3 separate regions of the Homo sapiens genome follow, and all the other regions are linked to region 2. Evidence: fine-mapped expression QTL. A gene starts in region 2. Each other region holds a variant in brackets. All regions are shown on one strand. Distances are from middle to middle.

Region 1 (5,000 bases), 51 kb after region 2:
GAAGCTGATAGGCCTGGATTTGCAGTCTTCTTTAGAGTGACTAAATCCTTGCATTCCCATGGATACTTTTCTGCAGAGTGATCCGAGTGAATCCCATGGCCCTCCTGCTTTAGGGTCTTGTGATTTACCTCTCCCTCTCCCCATGACCAAGGGTATGAAGGATGCTTGATTGTAAAAGCTCATCCCCTAACTCATGCTTCTGGGGTAATCTTCTGTACCCCAGCTCCTTGCAGAGTGTGATTATTCAGACATCCTTTTAGAATCTAAAATTCAGGCAGTGATGATGACGGTAGGAACTACCACTTTCTGCACACTTACTATATTTCAGACACATTGATACTATATTGTCATTATTCACATAAATTAACAACATTACTATGCTAAAATTATTTACTGAATAAGGGTACTTCCTGTCAGTCATGCCTGGGAGATGCTATTGTCCCCCATTTTACAGACTTGAAAACTGAGGCTCAAAGAGGCCTGTTGTGGCTAAAGAAACATTGCAGTGTGTCTGTCTGAGCTTGGGGGCAGGGAAGGCACGTTCTCAAAAGCCATATTCCTTTCCAACACATTTTAAAGGAAGTATATCACATGATAATTGTGAAAGATGTGACGAAAAGAGGTTAGCGGAGTCTGTGAGAGCAAGGCTATGAGACCTGTACAGAAGGTGGACAATGTGATTCTGTCTCCATGGCCAGCTCCATGGCTCCTAGCCTGGGCTGGGGCCCCTCTGTTGGCGCCTGGCCAGGTCCCTCTTTGCAACCCTGAACTACAGGGCTGGACAGTTGCACTCTCCACCTCCTCAAACCACCTTCAAACTGGATTAGACATGGGCAGTGGCTTCGAGGTCATTGAGAGGCTGAGCAGGGGTCCAGGCTGTTTTGCGGCCCCTCCCTCTGTCCCGGGTCCTCAGAGACTCTGCAGGGCCGGGGCAGGTGGAGTGCAGACAGGGCTGCTGAGAGGGGAACAGGCCGTTGCCGCTGCTCTGCGGGAACATCCCAGTGTGGTCCTTGGTCCCAAGGACTTTTCCTGGGACCTCTCGGCATCCCTGAAGCCATTTCTGGAACGGAGTGTATCCACTGAAGACCTGCCATCCCGGATCTCCTTTGTCAGGCTGTGAGCCTGAGTATGGCCCAAGGAGGTGACTTGAAGATGGCTCTTGGGGTGAGGGGAGGCCAGATAGGGCAGGGCTTCATCGGGCTGAGCAGTAACATGGCCCTGTACCCTTTGTTTGAATGCGGCTGGGCCACAAACCTGCCGGGGTAGCACTCCCCACCACGCTGGGCGTCCAGGCTGGAGGTCTTGGGGCCGTGGGTCTCTAGCATGGGCCTCTCCTGTGGCTTTGACCTTCCTCTCCTTGCTGGACCCCTGGAGCACTGCTAAGGAGCAGGTGCCACCCCCTCATGCTGGAGCTTGAGCCTCAAGACCAAGGCTGCCCCAGGCTGGAGGGGAGGATATAGTTGTATGGTGTGCGTTCAGCTGTCAGACCTCCTCTGCGGAGGTGCACAAGGCCACTGTCAAAATCCCTGGTTTTCTGCACCCACGCCACTGTTCCAGCCCTCTCCCACGAACGCACCACAGTTCCAGCCCTCTCCCACGAACCCGCCACAGTTCCAGCCCTCTCCCACGAACCCGCCACAGTTCCAGCCCTCTCCCACGAATGTGCCACAGTTCCACCCCTCTCCCAGGAACTCACCACAGTTCCACCCCTCTCCCAGGAACTCACCACAGTTCCAGCCCTCTCCCACGAACACACCAGCACCGGTGCAAAAAAGAGCTCGCATGTTGTCATCTTGGAAACAGTACAGCGCGTGGTGGGGTGGGACCTACGACAGGAGAGTTTGGTGGCTGGGGGCAGGGAGAGGATGTGGGGTGGGAGTGCAGAGGAGCAAGAGCAAGTCCTCTGAGACCTGGTCCCGGGATCATTTTGGGGGAGCTAGTCCTGTCATCTTCCTCCTCCCCACTGTTCACTGAGCACTTACTAAATGGCAAGTTTTTTACAGATGTTTTTGAGTTAATCTTTTTAACTTTTATGGAGCGCTGTTACTATCCCTGTTTTACTGCAAAGGGAACTGAAGTTTAGGAAGGTTAATCTGAAGGTCACACAGCCAGTAAATAGTGGATCTGAGAACTGAATCCAGCTCTGATGCGTCCCGAAGTGCATGTTGTTGATCACCGGGTCACAGCCACCATTTCCTCCTCTAGCCTAAACTTTGCGGTGGCTGCTGCTTGTTGGGGAAACTTTCCAGTTTGAGAGGTGCCCAGAGCCCCCTTCAAGGCAGTAATCTATGGGGCCTCTGAGGATTGGGGGTTTTAGTAAAGCCATGTTCCAGGGCTTTGTCCAGGAGACCTGAGCAAACATAG[G/T]TGTGTTTTGTTTCCCAGGGCTGAGCCTGGCTTTTCCAGGAAAGGGGGCTGGCTGCTTTCAACAGCACTTTTCCTCTTTCAAAAGCAGTGTCTTTTTACGACAGCAGCCTCTTCCTCCTTTATCTCATCCCAACCCCCTCCACGACTGGGTAGTAAACAGTGAGAATTTATAGCCCCCAGCTGGGCGGGTGGGCTCAGGGCAGTGCCTGCTAGGACCCTGGATGTTTCAGGCCACATTGGACCTGAAAGCATCCCTTCGAGTTGCTGGGGCTGACACAGTTCCCCTCAAGGAAATAGAAAACCTTAGGCTGAAGGTTCAGTGCTGGGGGACTGGGAGTGGGTGCTGGGGATGGCCAAGATGGTGATAAATGAGAAAAGACCACCCACCCCAGTGTCAACGCACACTCAAGTGTGAACGCACAGCTTGAAGACACTGGGCAGACCAGTGTCAGCTGGGAGAGAATGTGCAAAACCAAAGTAAATTATATTTGTTTTAAAGAGTTAAAAATCCTTTAATATTTTTCTACCAATAAAAAGAAGTTAAAATAAGGATAAAGGCTAAAGGCCCTCTCATCTCCTGCAGTGCCAGCAGCGGAGGAAGGATGCTTGGTACATACGCTTCCCTGTCCTGCTGCGTCCTCTTTCCTCCGAGCTGTCTTCTGTGTCCAGGGGGTCCCTAAGAGCACTGTTTGTCCCATCACCCCCTGCCCTGAGAGCATTCAGCCTCACCCACAAGGTGCAGTTGGATCTCCCAGGACCCTCTCAGCTTTGCATCCAGTTCCCCACTTGTTCCTTCACCTGGCTGCCCAATTCTTACGTCCACTAGAATGTCTGCTGCACAGAGGCAGGGACTTTTGCTGTTTAGTTCACTGCTGTGTCCCTGACTCTGTGCCCTGGGTCTCTGGGATATAAAGGTGAACATTGAGTTTCTACCTCCAAGAGCTCCCAGGCTGGGGGTGTGGAGCTGACAAGTGGCTAGGCATAATGGGTGAATGCAGGGTGCTATGGGTGTGTGTCCAGCCCAGACAGAGCAGGTGGCTATCAGGAAGGCTTCCTGGAGGAGGTGATATCTCTACCCAGTCTTGAAAGATGAGTGAGTTAGTTAAGCAAGATAGAGAGGACATTGGAAATCAGTGTATGTCCCCTATCTACCCTGATCTGTGTGCCAGTCTTCCCAGAGCTCTGGGATAGCACAATACGCCGTTTCTCTTCATCATGGGAGTAGGCTGGCCTGCAGAGTGGAGATATGTTTGCAGGGAGAGAGAGGTATTCCATATTGGTAAGTTACTAGTGAGACATGATTGAAAAATTAAGCCCAAAGTCACAGGGTATCATAATGCTGTCCCTTTCTCCCCGCCTGTGTGGAGGGATAGCTTCTGTCCCCCTGTTCCCTTTCTTGTTCATAGGCTCTTCAACTTTTGCTCCTAAATCTAAGCAGCTATTTCTTTTCCCCTGATACTCGCTGGTGTGATGTTCTTCCCTCTTCCTACCCACTTATTGCCACTTCACCTTTAGAGTTCCCCAGGGCAGGAGGAAGGGATTGGGGAGCATGAAGCTGTGACCTTTCCCATGAGGAAGAGTATTTCTAGTGTGGCTCCTACTGTCACATGAATGATACACTGCCCATCCTTTGAATTTTGCAGGGCAGGTGGGAAGAGAGCTGAATGGCTCTGGTGTTGGGTGAGCCCCATGTAATTGGTAGTGCCATTTGGTGCAGAGAAGTCTGGAGTTGCCAATGAATGGTTTAGATCTAAAGCAAGGGAGCTCTTCTCTCTGGTTGCCACAGAGTGGAGACAGCTGGAGAGAGACACCTGTTTTAGATGGACATGTAAAACTGCGATGCATGCTTTTGTTTCTCATGTTTGTTGAGACACCCTCTTCCTGTTTGAGCCACTAGCTGGTGCTGTTGGCACAGGATGGCTTAGTTGCTGCCTCACCTGATCATAATCTGCTTAATAGAGAAGTAACTATGAAGCTGATGGTCTTTGATTTGACCTCCTTACATTCCCTTTCTGGAACTCTTCATGCTTTTGCAGCTTAGGGTGCCCCTATCCCCACCCAAAGCACACACAGATACACATTGGGGTGCTTACTCTTCTCCCTTGTCCTGACACCCTGCATCTGAATTCTGTTCTCAGCAAAACTTACTACTCCTTTCTCTTAGCTGGCTGCCAAGTGAGAAAGGATTTAATATACTAATTTACCCTAAGGTATCAACAGGGCTTAATATGTTCCTTCGGGGTTACTCTGTCTTAAAACTGTGAAGATTGAAACTAAGTCTTATAACTTAAGAGGTAACTTGTAAGAATGGAATTGTGGCATTTTCAAATGTGGGTGGGCATGAGTCTTTGAGAGAGGGCTGGGAGGCGGATGTTAAGGGAATTTGCTGCTTCATGTATCCTGCTTGCTCCCACCCATGTAGCAGGCTCTGTGTAGGGTCCCTCAGCTGCTGCCCTGTGGGTAGCTCAGTGCTTGGTTGATGCAGTGAATGAGACCATGGTGGGGCAACTGTGTTGAGAGGCTCTGCTGAGTAGGTGTCCACCTCCCACCCCCTGGCACCATTAAATGGCTTGTCCAATGAGGGTGACAACACCAGCCCCCTGACCACTTGCCCTTCTTGTCTCTGCCCAGACATT
Region 2 (5,338 bases):
TGTCAAAGCTTCCAGCCAGCCTTGCTCCCCTTAGATCCACACTCCACCTGGCACATGAGGCCTTCATGGTCTGGCTGCTTTGCACCTCTCTAGCCCCGTCTCTTGCCCCTCCCGGCCTTGGATTTCTAGTCCAGCCACGTTGAGATGCTAGACATTCCTTTGTATACCATGCAGTTTCCTGTCCTTGTGCATTAGCTTGTGCTGGTCCTTCCTTCTGGAGTAACTTCCCACACTCTTTATCTGGCTGACTCTCATTCTTTAACGTTCACTTAAGTTTCACCTCCTCCAAAAAGTTAAGCCTGGAGCCTCCTTTCCCACGGGGTTCAGTGCCCCTCATCTGTTCCAACAGTACACTTGTCAGATCTCTCTCCTTGCGTCTAACTCATGACATCATATTTTTGTTTCTGTGTCTGTCTGCTGGGCTGTGTGCGACAGGGACTATGGCTTTTTCATCTCTGTATACATCTAGTACATTCCCTGATATGCAGATGGTGCTCAGCAAATATTTATTGGGTGAATGAATGGATACAGCACTACCATTACCCTCTGTGTTAGGTTTAGAGCCACAGTTTAGAAGCGGTGATAAAATGGTCCATAAATCAGCTGTCTCTGTGGCTCAGAAGCAGTGCTTCCTCAGCCAGGGGCTTTTGGAAGGCACAGTGCTGGAGGGTAACACTCATATGAATATGTGTGGTTGACGAATGATGCAGCCAGAGACACCATCCGATATCTGCTCACAACAGCAGCAGTGGCTCTTCTGAGAACCAGGGGGCACTTTCTTCACCTTTTCCATGGGTGGCTTTCAGGTATCCACCATCGCCTGGAGAGAAGGTAGAGGACAAAATCCAGCCCATAATTCAGGGCCCTTCCTGTCAGTGAACTTCTTCTTCTAACTCCTTCACTCACTTCTGAATTGACATATTTGCATTTTAAATTTAAATTTAAATTTAAATTTTTGCAGTTGATGCAGCCATTCATCCTACAAATACAGTCCTCCCTTAGTATTGGCAGGGTATTGGTTTCAGCATCCCCATGGATACCAAAATCTGAGGATGCTCAAGTCCCTCACAGTCAGCCTGGGTATCTGCGGGTTCTGAAGCCTGTGGATATAAAGGGCCAAATGCATATATGTATGTATATATTTTGAGACAGTCTTGTTTTGTCACCCAGGCCGGAGTGCAATGGTGAAAATGCACCTCACTGCAACCTCGACCTCCCAGGCTCAAGGGAGTCTCCCGCCTCAGCTTCCCAAGTAGCTGGGACTACAGGCGTGTACCACCATGCCCGGCTGATTTTTGTATTTTTAGTAAGGACGGGGTTTTGCCACGTTGGCCAGGCTGGTCTCCAACTCCTGGGCTCAAGCGATCTGCCCGCCTCAGCCTCTCAAAGTGCTGGGATTACAGGTGTGAGCCACCGCCACCGTGGCCAGCCTCAAATCCATAAATTAAGCTCTACTATGTGCTGGGTGCTGGGGTGGAAGACTGGCACATCTGTTGTTCACAAGACAGTGCATAACCTAGGAGAGGTTTATTTGCTACTGTTCTTCGGAACCGGGATCCCATAGAGGAGCCTGCCAGAACGCGAGGCCTGCTCCTTCCCGGGCATTAGCGCGTTTAGACTCTCCTCTTACTAAGCCCAGGGAAAGGAGTCCTGGCAGGTGGCAAGCAGAAGTTAGAGCTATTTAGTCACTCCCGCCCTCCATCCTCCTCCAATGACAATAAGGTTTTGTTTGTCAGGCATAAGGTTACCGGATTGGCCTGTGAAGTCCAGAAGCTCTTTCCGCGCTCGGCTCTTTGAGCCTCAGTTTCCCCATCTGTCAGGCGTGTGTATGTGGGAGGGGGGTACGGAGTAGATTTACCTAGATCACTCGGGGTTGTCCCTTCCAGTTTTGAGGGTGATGTCGGGGTGTCTGTGAGGAGGAGGGAGGACCCTGCCACGCGAAGGTAGTTTTGGTCGCAGCAGCCAGCCAAGTGTGCCCGCGGAGACCGGCAGGGAATTCCGGGAGGCCCCGCTGTGGAGCGGTCCCCAGAGCCCGAGGGCGAGCTAGAAGAGTTCCTGCGGCGAGGCGGGAACGCTCGGTAGCCTCTGAGAGCAGTTCGCTGGCGAGAAACCGGGTTCCTGCAGGGCAGGGATCAGCCGGGTCGCGCCTTGTAGGGTGGGGTGGGGTGGGGCGGGGCCGGGGGGGGCGGCGGTGGAGTCGTGAAATTCCCAAGAAATTCCTTTCCATTGCCCCACTCCGCCCCCTTTCCTAGGGTGCCGACCTGCCCAGACCCAGGTTCCCTGGGAAAGAGAAAATGAATGTTCTTCGGGTTTCCTCGCGTCCTTTCTCCAGCCCCCTCCCACCCCGGGGTTTGGAGCGCGCGTGGGAGCGCAATAACGGTGGCGGGGAACGGGTCCAATCCCGGCGGCTCCTGGGGTTCCCAAGCGCGCTGCCACTCAGTCCCCGAGCTCGGGGAGGCGTCTCCCGGCTTCGGTCCCGTTCAGCTTAAGCTGGCGTCACATGAGCCGCGGGGGAACGGGCACCGCGGGAGTGGGCGGGGGTGTGCGCGCCGGGAGGGGGCCGCCCAGTCCACCTATATGCGCCGCAGCCCGGCTGACGGATGCCAGGAATTCCCAATGAGAGGCGATGGGGGGAAGTTTGGGCAACTCGGCCTGGCCAATGGAGAGCCTCGGGAGGGCTCTGCCCCTTCCCCCCGCCCCCGCCCGCCTCGGCTCCCGCAGCGCTAGTGTGTCCGCCTAGTTCAGTGTGCGTGGAGATTAGGTCCAAGCGCCCGCCCAGAGGCAGGCAGTCCGCGAGCCCAGCCGCCGCTGTCGCCGCCAGTAGCAGCCTTCGCCAGCAGCGCCGCGGCGGAACCGGGCGCAGGGGAGCGAGCCCGGCCCCGCCAGCCCAGCCCAGCCCAGCCCTACTCCCTCCCCACGCCAGGGCAGCAGCCGTTGCTCAGAGAGAAGGTGGAGGAAGAAATCCAGACCCTAGCACGCGCGCACCATCATGGACCATTATGATTCTCAGCAAACCAACGATTACATGCAGCCAGAAGAGGACTGGGACCGGGACCTGCTCCTGGACCCGGCCTGGGAGAAGCAGCAGAGAAAGGTTAGCAGCCGCCCCCGCCCGCTGCAGCCCCCAGCCCCCAGCCCCCAGCCCCGACCCGCTCTGCCTGCCGGGCTCTCGGCTCCGGGCTCTGAACCGGTTCCGGGCGCGCACGGGAGGGGGCGGGGGCGGTGCGGCCGTTGCGAGGTGGGGTGTTGGGTTACAGGCGCCTGGCGGAAGCGGGAGCGCCCCTGCCCCGGAGCCCGGGAACGCCGGGCCGGAGCGCGGGGAGGTGGCGCCGCTGGCGGGCAGGTCTCCTTGGGGGTCCGTGGTCCAGGCCACCCTGCGGCTGTTGCAACCATCCCCGCGTGGGCTGTGCTCGGGGGCGGTGGTCTTCAGGCTGGGGCTGAGACCCCGGCTCGGGGCTGCTTGCTCCGGATCGATTTTCCCTTTTCTTCCGCCCCTGGCCACCTCTCCATATGGCGTGCGGTGGCAGCGCCGCTTCCTGGGCCGCCCTGGGTTCAACCTGAGCGGCGGGCCTCCCGGGACCCTGCTGCCCCTTAGGCGGAGGGGAGAGCGCCGGAGAGATCGGCGGCCGCCTCCGGATCTGCCTGGAGAAGGACCAGCTGGAGTGCGGCTGGGGACGAGAAAACTGGGGGGCGTACGCGGGCTCCCCCGCGGGCCCTGTGGGGGCGGGGTCAGGACAGCAGACCGTTTTATTGCTTAACTCAGTGGGTTGGAAGCTGTAACCCCGACATGGGCTTGCGCTACGTCCTGCCCCTCCGACCCCCGGGAAAGGTGGGCAGCTCGGTTCGAGTTGAGGGGCTGCAGAACGAGGGTCAGTCTTAGGGGATATTTGGGGCCAGTCACTGGGGATCCCTACTTAGCCACGGAGCTGCATCCCAGGCAGGCGCGGTGTGCCGGGTGCGCGCCCCGCCACGGGAGCTGGGCTCGGAGCTGGCGATGGGACCCGGGCACAGTGGCCAGTGGCAGGAAGAGGTCAGAAACCACTCGTGGTGGTGGGGGGAGGGCGCCTCAACCCTACCGCTGCTTCCTGCCTGCGCGGTGAGCCTGTGCCCCCAGGCGGCCACGTACCCTGAATACCCCTTTCCCTCCCCCTCCTCCCGGCTGCCCACTTCCATCCGGTCCCTCCCCGTTTCATACCCTCCCCACCCCCAGGCTGATCTGGGAATGGGGTTTTGGGTGGGGGGGGGACAGGATGGCGCGTCCCTTTGGATAGTGCGGTTAGGGCTGGGCTTGAGGGAGAACGCTCATGTCCAAAAATGGTAACATTCATTCCCTTTTTTAAACTTAAAAGGGGGGTAGTTTATAGAGCCGACTGAAGTTTTTTTTTTCAGCCAAAGGCATCCTGTATTAGCTCACTCAGGAATCCTAGGCCCTGAAACGGAGCCCTTTTACTCACTTCATCAGACAGGCAGAGGTAATCTAAAACACACACAATGGGCTTCCTCAAAGCAGGATGACCTGGGCCGCGGTGCCCAAGGCCTATGCAGGGCTGGGCCCTATACAGCGACATCGGTCATCTACATCGGACATGGGAAGGTCCCCTGACTTCGAACTGACTTCTTTGTAATGTGCCAGTTGCTTAAACTCCCCCTCTTCCTGTCATCTTCCTAGTAAGAGCTGAAGACTGGGGGCTGCAGACAGTCCCCCACTCACTTGGCTTATTTCCTGGGACCATGGGTGCTGTGGGTGGAACTGAAAAGTGAGTGAGTAATTTGGAGATCCCTATGGGGCACCAGGCAGAAGGCTCTTTAATAATTTCAGGGTGAAGCCTTCTTGAGAATGGATTTTAAATTAGAAGTGAGATTAGGGTGGTGGATTGGGGTCTTCCCTGGGGGTTAGAATCGAAGGAGAAATCCCTGCTTAGGGAGCACCTGCTTTGTGCCTGGGAGGGGCAGGAGTAACAGAGCTGCCTAGGAACTAGGCCCCTGAAAGGACTGTGAGACCAAGTTCCTAGGGGACAGACACTGAGCACCGGCCTGAACATCGTATTTAATATTTCTGAATGAATGAATATATTAAACGCAGTGGGGAGAAGAATATAGATTCCCAGGGCTCTGACCTGGGTGGCAGTGGGTGTGCCCCAGGCCTTTGGGCAGCCAGGTAGGAAGAGGTGGTCTGGGAAACTGGGTTATCCTGGAGGCAAACTCAACAGTGCCAAGAACTGGCATTTGCTGATATGTGCCAGGCACGAACAAGGACTAGGAAACCAGGGCCAGAGAGGGGAAGTAACCAGCTCCAAGTCCAGACTGTGTTTGGTGGGGCTGGGATGCAGCCATGTTT
Region 3 (5,000 bases), 58 kb after region 2:
TTTTTCTACTTTCAGATAAAACCTGTGTGTGTGGTAAAATAATATATAACAGAAAATGTATCATTTTAGCCATTTTAAAGGGTGCAGTTCAGCGGTATTAAGGGCATGCACTGACTGTTGTGCAGCCATCGCCACCGTCCACCTTCAGGGCTCTTCATCGTCTCAAACTGACACCCTACAGCTGTTCAACACTAGCTCGCCGCTCCCCCCGGCCCTCCCCTGGCAACCACCATTCTACTTTTTGTCTCTGATTTGACTACTCTAGGTATACCTTGTACGAGTGGAATCATACAGTATTTCTCCTTTTGTGACACTGGTTTATTTCACTTACTGTGTCTTCACGGTTCATCCATGTTGGAGCATGTGCCGCCATCCCTTTCCTTTTTATGGCTGAATCGTATTCCATTGTATGTATGACCTACAGCTATAAAATGGCTCCCCACATTTTGTTCATTCACCTGTCGGTGGTCACTTGGGTTGTTTCTACCTTTTGGGTATTGTGAATAATGCTAGGACATGGTTGTACAAAATATTTTTAAAATCCCTCTTTCAGTTCTTTTTTTGTATATTCCCCAAAGTGGAACTGCTAGGTCACATGGGAATTCTCTGTTTAATTTTTTGAGGAGCCACCGTGCTGTTTTCCTCTGCCGTTATTTATTTATTTATTTTCTTTTTTCTTTGAGATAGGGTTCCACCATGTTGGCCAGGCTGGTATTGAACTCCTGACCTCAGGTGATCCTCCCACCTCAGCCTCCCAAAGCGCTGGGATTGCAGGTGTGAGCCACCGTGCCTTGCCTCTAACTGCCTTTTAGAATGTCCCTGCTTCCTACCTCCTCCACTACCCTTCCCCAGTTTTAAACAAATCTGGCCTTACAATTTATCATTCTTCAAAATGCAGCTTGAGGGTGTCCTTCAAGAAGGCTTCACCCTTCCTCTCTCCCCTAATCTGAGTGGACTGTGCCCTGCCCGCACCACCCCCCTACCTGCCCAGCTCCCCAGCACCTATAATACCCCATTAATTCCTCTGCTGTGTCTTTTATCACAAAGTGTAGTCATTTTCGGTTCGCTTGTTTTCTTCTCTGCTCCACACTGAGCTCCTTGGGGCAGGTCATCTTCTCTCTGTGTCTCAGGTGCTTAGAACAGCACCAGACATGTAGGCGGTGCTCCGGGAACATTAGAATGACTGAGTGCCCAGAGCCGGGCTTGTCCTCATGATACCCAGTGTGTTCCTGCTGCATAGGTCTGACGTGTGCCCAGGGGACCTGTGCATTTCTGTGAAGCATGTGTCTCTTTGCCAGGGTTGGGAAAGATCTGTTCTGTGAAATGATCTGTTCTCCCCTGGACAGGAAATGCTGGGATACCTTTTTCTCCTGATCATCGTTGGAGATGGGTAGGGTGCCCCAGGATGAGGAGAAGGAGGGGTATGCTGCCTACAGAGGTTCTCAAAGTGTGGTCCTTGGACTACCCACACCAGAATCGGCAGGATTGCCTGTCAAAATGCAGATTTCCAAACCTTAACCCAGTCCTCCTAATCACAAACTTAGTGAGAGGGGGAAAGGGGCTGGACAGCCACAGATTAGCCAGTTCTCCAGGTGATTTTGTGCTGACTGACGTTTGAGAACCACTGGCCCAGGCCTGGGAAGCTTTTTCCATTCTCCCGTGTTTAACCCTTGCCTCCTCCACTGTCCTTTGCAGAAGCCCCCTTCCAGCCAGTGTGCACAGCTGCTGAATGGCTGGGGCACTCCGCTTAGCTGGACAGGCCCCAAGGGCTGGGGCTGTAACAGGAGCAGCCTTCCAGGGAGGGGACGTGGTGCTGCCTGCATCCATCCTGTGGGGAGGGAGCCTCTGTGCCATCTCCCCCCGGACAGGAAATACTGGGGTACCTTGCTGGGTTGCAGCCAGAGCCTTGGGAGGGCCCCAAGTGGAAAGTCTTGATTTAATTTAAAAAACAGCTGTGCTTCCCTGGGAGCTGACAGCCAGATCCCATCTGTGGCAGGAAGTCTGCCGTCTTCCAGAAGCTAGCAGGCTGCTGGGAGGCCACCTGGAGAGGTGCTGCTCTGACAGGGTGGGCCTGGCCCAGAATCCCCGTGGCTGGTCCCTGGAGTCCTCGCAGCCAGATTGTCGACCTGCTGGGGAGACAGTGGGTGTGGTCGGGATATCAGGGCAGGCACAAGGGGCCTGAATTCCAGGCTCTGCGATGGTGGTTCTCAGCCTTTTGGGGTCCTTGGCCCCTTAGAGACCCTGAAAGCTATATACCCCTTCCCTAGGTATGGCTCTATGCTGCACTTAGAAAATTCTCAGATCATTTCAGGAGGCCCCTGGATGCTCTTTGTTCTGGAATAAAAGTGCTGTTAATGGGGTATTTGGAGAGCCAGCTCCTCTACCTTTATTTTCTCAAAGGTTCTGACCTTGAAACCTGAGCAGCAGAAGCTACTGTGTGGAATCTGGAGGTGGGGGTGGAGGGTTGACCTGGAGCTGAGCCCTGGGTGCCCACAGGAGGCAGCATAATAGGACAAGAACTGTGGTTCTCAG[A/T]TGGGGATGGGCTGCTATAGGCAACTCCATTTAAACACCAGGGAAGTCCATAATACTTGAGTGACCTATACCCTCCTCCCAGGGCAAAGGGAAGGCTAGAAGGAGTTCAGGGCCTTTGCATGTACTGTTCCTTCTGCCTTGATCATCATTCCTTGCTTTGTTTGCCTGGCTGCAAAGACTCAGACCTTTCCTGACCACTCCTCAGTTCCTCCTTCCTCTTCCTCCTCCTCTTTTGAAGAGCATGGATCTTTCTTTGTATTTGTTCATTGTATATATTTATTTGTGTTTCTCTATTTAAGGTCTGTCTCTCCTACTGGACTGTAATTACATAAAGGCAAGAAACTGTTTTGTTCACCCCCCTATTCCTAGCACCCAGCCAAATCCCTGGCATGCGGTAGGGGCTCGATAAATAAATGTTGAGTGGATGCAAGCAGATTTCGACCTGAGAAGCAGAAGAAAGAAGAGGCAGGGTAGATTCTCCCTCTCATTCCCTGCCAGGGTGACATTCTCCAGCCCCTGAGCAGCGTGTGAGCACACACACACGTGCACACATGCACATGCTTCTGCCTAGCTAAGCTGTGCTTTGGATGAGGGTGTAGTGGTAGTAGCTCTGGCCCCTGGCTCATAGCGTCTCACCTTCCTCTTCCTCCCTCTTGATCCAAACAGGTGAACGCTTGGCCAAGCCAGAGCGAGGCAAGATGAGAGTGCACAAGATCTCCAACGTCAACAAGGCCCTGGATTTCATAGCCAGCAAAGGCGTCAAACTGGTGTCCATCGGAGCCGAAGGTAAGGCCTACCTCTGGTGGCCCCAAGGAGCCTGATTTTCTTTGTCCCCCTGGTTCTCTTGGCCTTTTTTGTGCTGCCTCCTGGGCCCATGCATCACTTGGGGGCATTGGGCAGTGGGTCCCCAGCACCTCCATCTGGTCGCCTGTGGAGGCTTTGTATTGCAACAGCGCTTTTCTTCTAGTCTCAGCCCTGCCCAAAACCAAGGACTTAGACCCCTGTTCCCATGCCTGCACCTGCTTAGCCACGTCCTTGCTCTGTGGAGTCCTGTGTGTGTGGCATGCCACCTCCCCCATCCAGAGGCCTGACTGCACGGTGTTGCCTGGAGCAGAGGATTTGTGTATGGGCTGGAAAGGGTGTGCAGACACAGGCTGGTGGAGGCTGGAGGCTGCCCCGAGACTCCCCGGGGCCCTGGGAAGACTGAAGTCCCGAAGCCTCTAGGAACATTTTTAATAGCATTTCCCTGCAGTGTAGCTTCCTAACTCTTTAACTTTTACTTAGAAACACTTACCAAAAAAGCTATTAGCATTTCCTTAATGATTAAAAGAAGGTAGTGTAATTTCTTGTGTGCATGGTGGTGGCTCTGAAAAATTGAGAGTGGGTTGTTTAGAGTGGGCAGAAAATGTTCTATCCAGGCCCCTTCAGTCCTGTGACCATGGATTTAGCAAGTATTTATGGGGCACCTGCTGCGTGATGTCAGAGACCTAAAGATGAACGAATCTCACTCATTCAAGACACATCGTGGCTGTGAGAATGGATTGCTCACTCTGTGGCATATACTTAATCCTCACAACAACCCTATGAGGTAGCTCTAAGAATTAATTATCCTGATTTTGCCATAAGAAAACAGATGCTTAAAGAGATTACGTGACTTCCTCAAGGTTCCGCCATCAGTAAGTGGCAAAGCCAGAACTCAAACGCAGGTCTTCGTGACACCAGAGGAATGCCCTGAGAGTGGCCTTCCCTTGGAGGGGGCAGGGGTCTTGCTCCTGGGAAGTCCATAGGAGCAGATCTCTTCTCTGGTTGAAGCTTACAGTCCCCTCTCTTCTAGAAATGGAGGGATATTTATCAAATGGAGAACTTTAACACAGGCTCAGCAAACTGCAGTGCATGGGGTCGAGTCCGGCTGATTTGGATTTTTGGAAATATTGGAACACAGCACACCGGTGTTAATGTATCATCAGTGGCTTTGTGCTGCAATGACAGAGTTGAGTAGTTGCTACAGAGCTTATATGGATCATAGAGCCAGAAACATTTCTTATCAGGCCCTCTACAGAAAAAGTTTGCTCACCTCTGCCTTATCTGGAATTCAGGCCAGTGCCCAAGGTGGTCACGCAAGGTGCCTTATGGATTCCAGCATCTCCCCCACCAGCTGTGAGCTTCTCAAAGGCAGAAACCTTGGTTTCTACATCCTGTGGCCCCAGTTCCTAGCAGCATGATGCACACAGTAGGTGCTCAATACATGTTAAAAGGATTTACATATAGCAGTATAATCTGCTTTGTGATGAGGAAGATGTTCTCTGCCTTATAATAAGAAAAGAACAGTTTGCTTTATTAGGGAGCAATTCAAGACTTGGCAGAAAAAGTTATAACTAAGCAGGCGTGGGAAGCCAAAGAAAGTCACCCAGGTGGTTAGTGCAGGCTCGGATGCCCCTGGGGCAGGGAAGTGTAGAGAATTTGTGAAG

What was found. PIP is the estimated chance that this variant, and not a neighbour inherited with it, causes the effect.
Region 1: its variant is the best candidate, but not a certain one, in a credible set for the expression of ACTN1 in monocytes (TOPMed, PIP 0.76).
Region 3: its variant is the best candidate, but not a certain one, in a credible set for the expression of ACTN1 in whole blood (TOPMed, PIP 0.53).

Annotation. Positions count from the first base shown.
Region 1 is chr14:68,925,668-68,930,667 of GRCh38, reverse strand. It overlaps ACTN1 (actinin alpha 1), which reads left to right. Exons shown (of 22, transcript NM_001130004.2): 2 at 4,996-5,000. Among named protein-coding and RNA genes, the nearest start is that of ACTN1, 51 kb to the left of the region's middle. The variant G/T (reference allele first, on the strand shown) is at 2,365.
Region 2 is chr14:68,976,708-68,982,045 of GRCh38, reverse strand. ACTN1 (actinin alpha 1) reads left to right here and starts at 2,744. Exons shown (of 22, transcript NM_001130004.2): 1 at 2,744-3,094. The coding sequence starts at 2,990. It overlaps ACTN1-DT (ACTN1 divergent transcript), which reads right to left and starts at 2,364. Exons shown (of 4, transcript NR_073422.1): 1 at 2,262-2,364; 2 at 1,859-2,118. RefSeq lists a silencer at 2,687-2,736 and enhancers at 1,878-2,876, 2,877-3,876.
Region 3 is chr14:68,919,324-68,924,323 of GRCh38, reverse strand. It overlaps ACTN1 (actinin alpha 1), which reads left to right. Exons shown (of 22, transcript NM_001130004.2): 3 at 3,199-3,318. Among named protein-coding and RNA genes, the nearest start is that of ACTN1, 57 kb to the left of the region's middle. RefSeq lists enhancers at 1-344, 2,877-3,451. The variant A/T (reference allele first, on the strand shown) is at 2,533.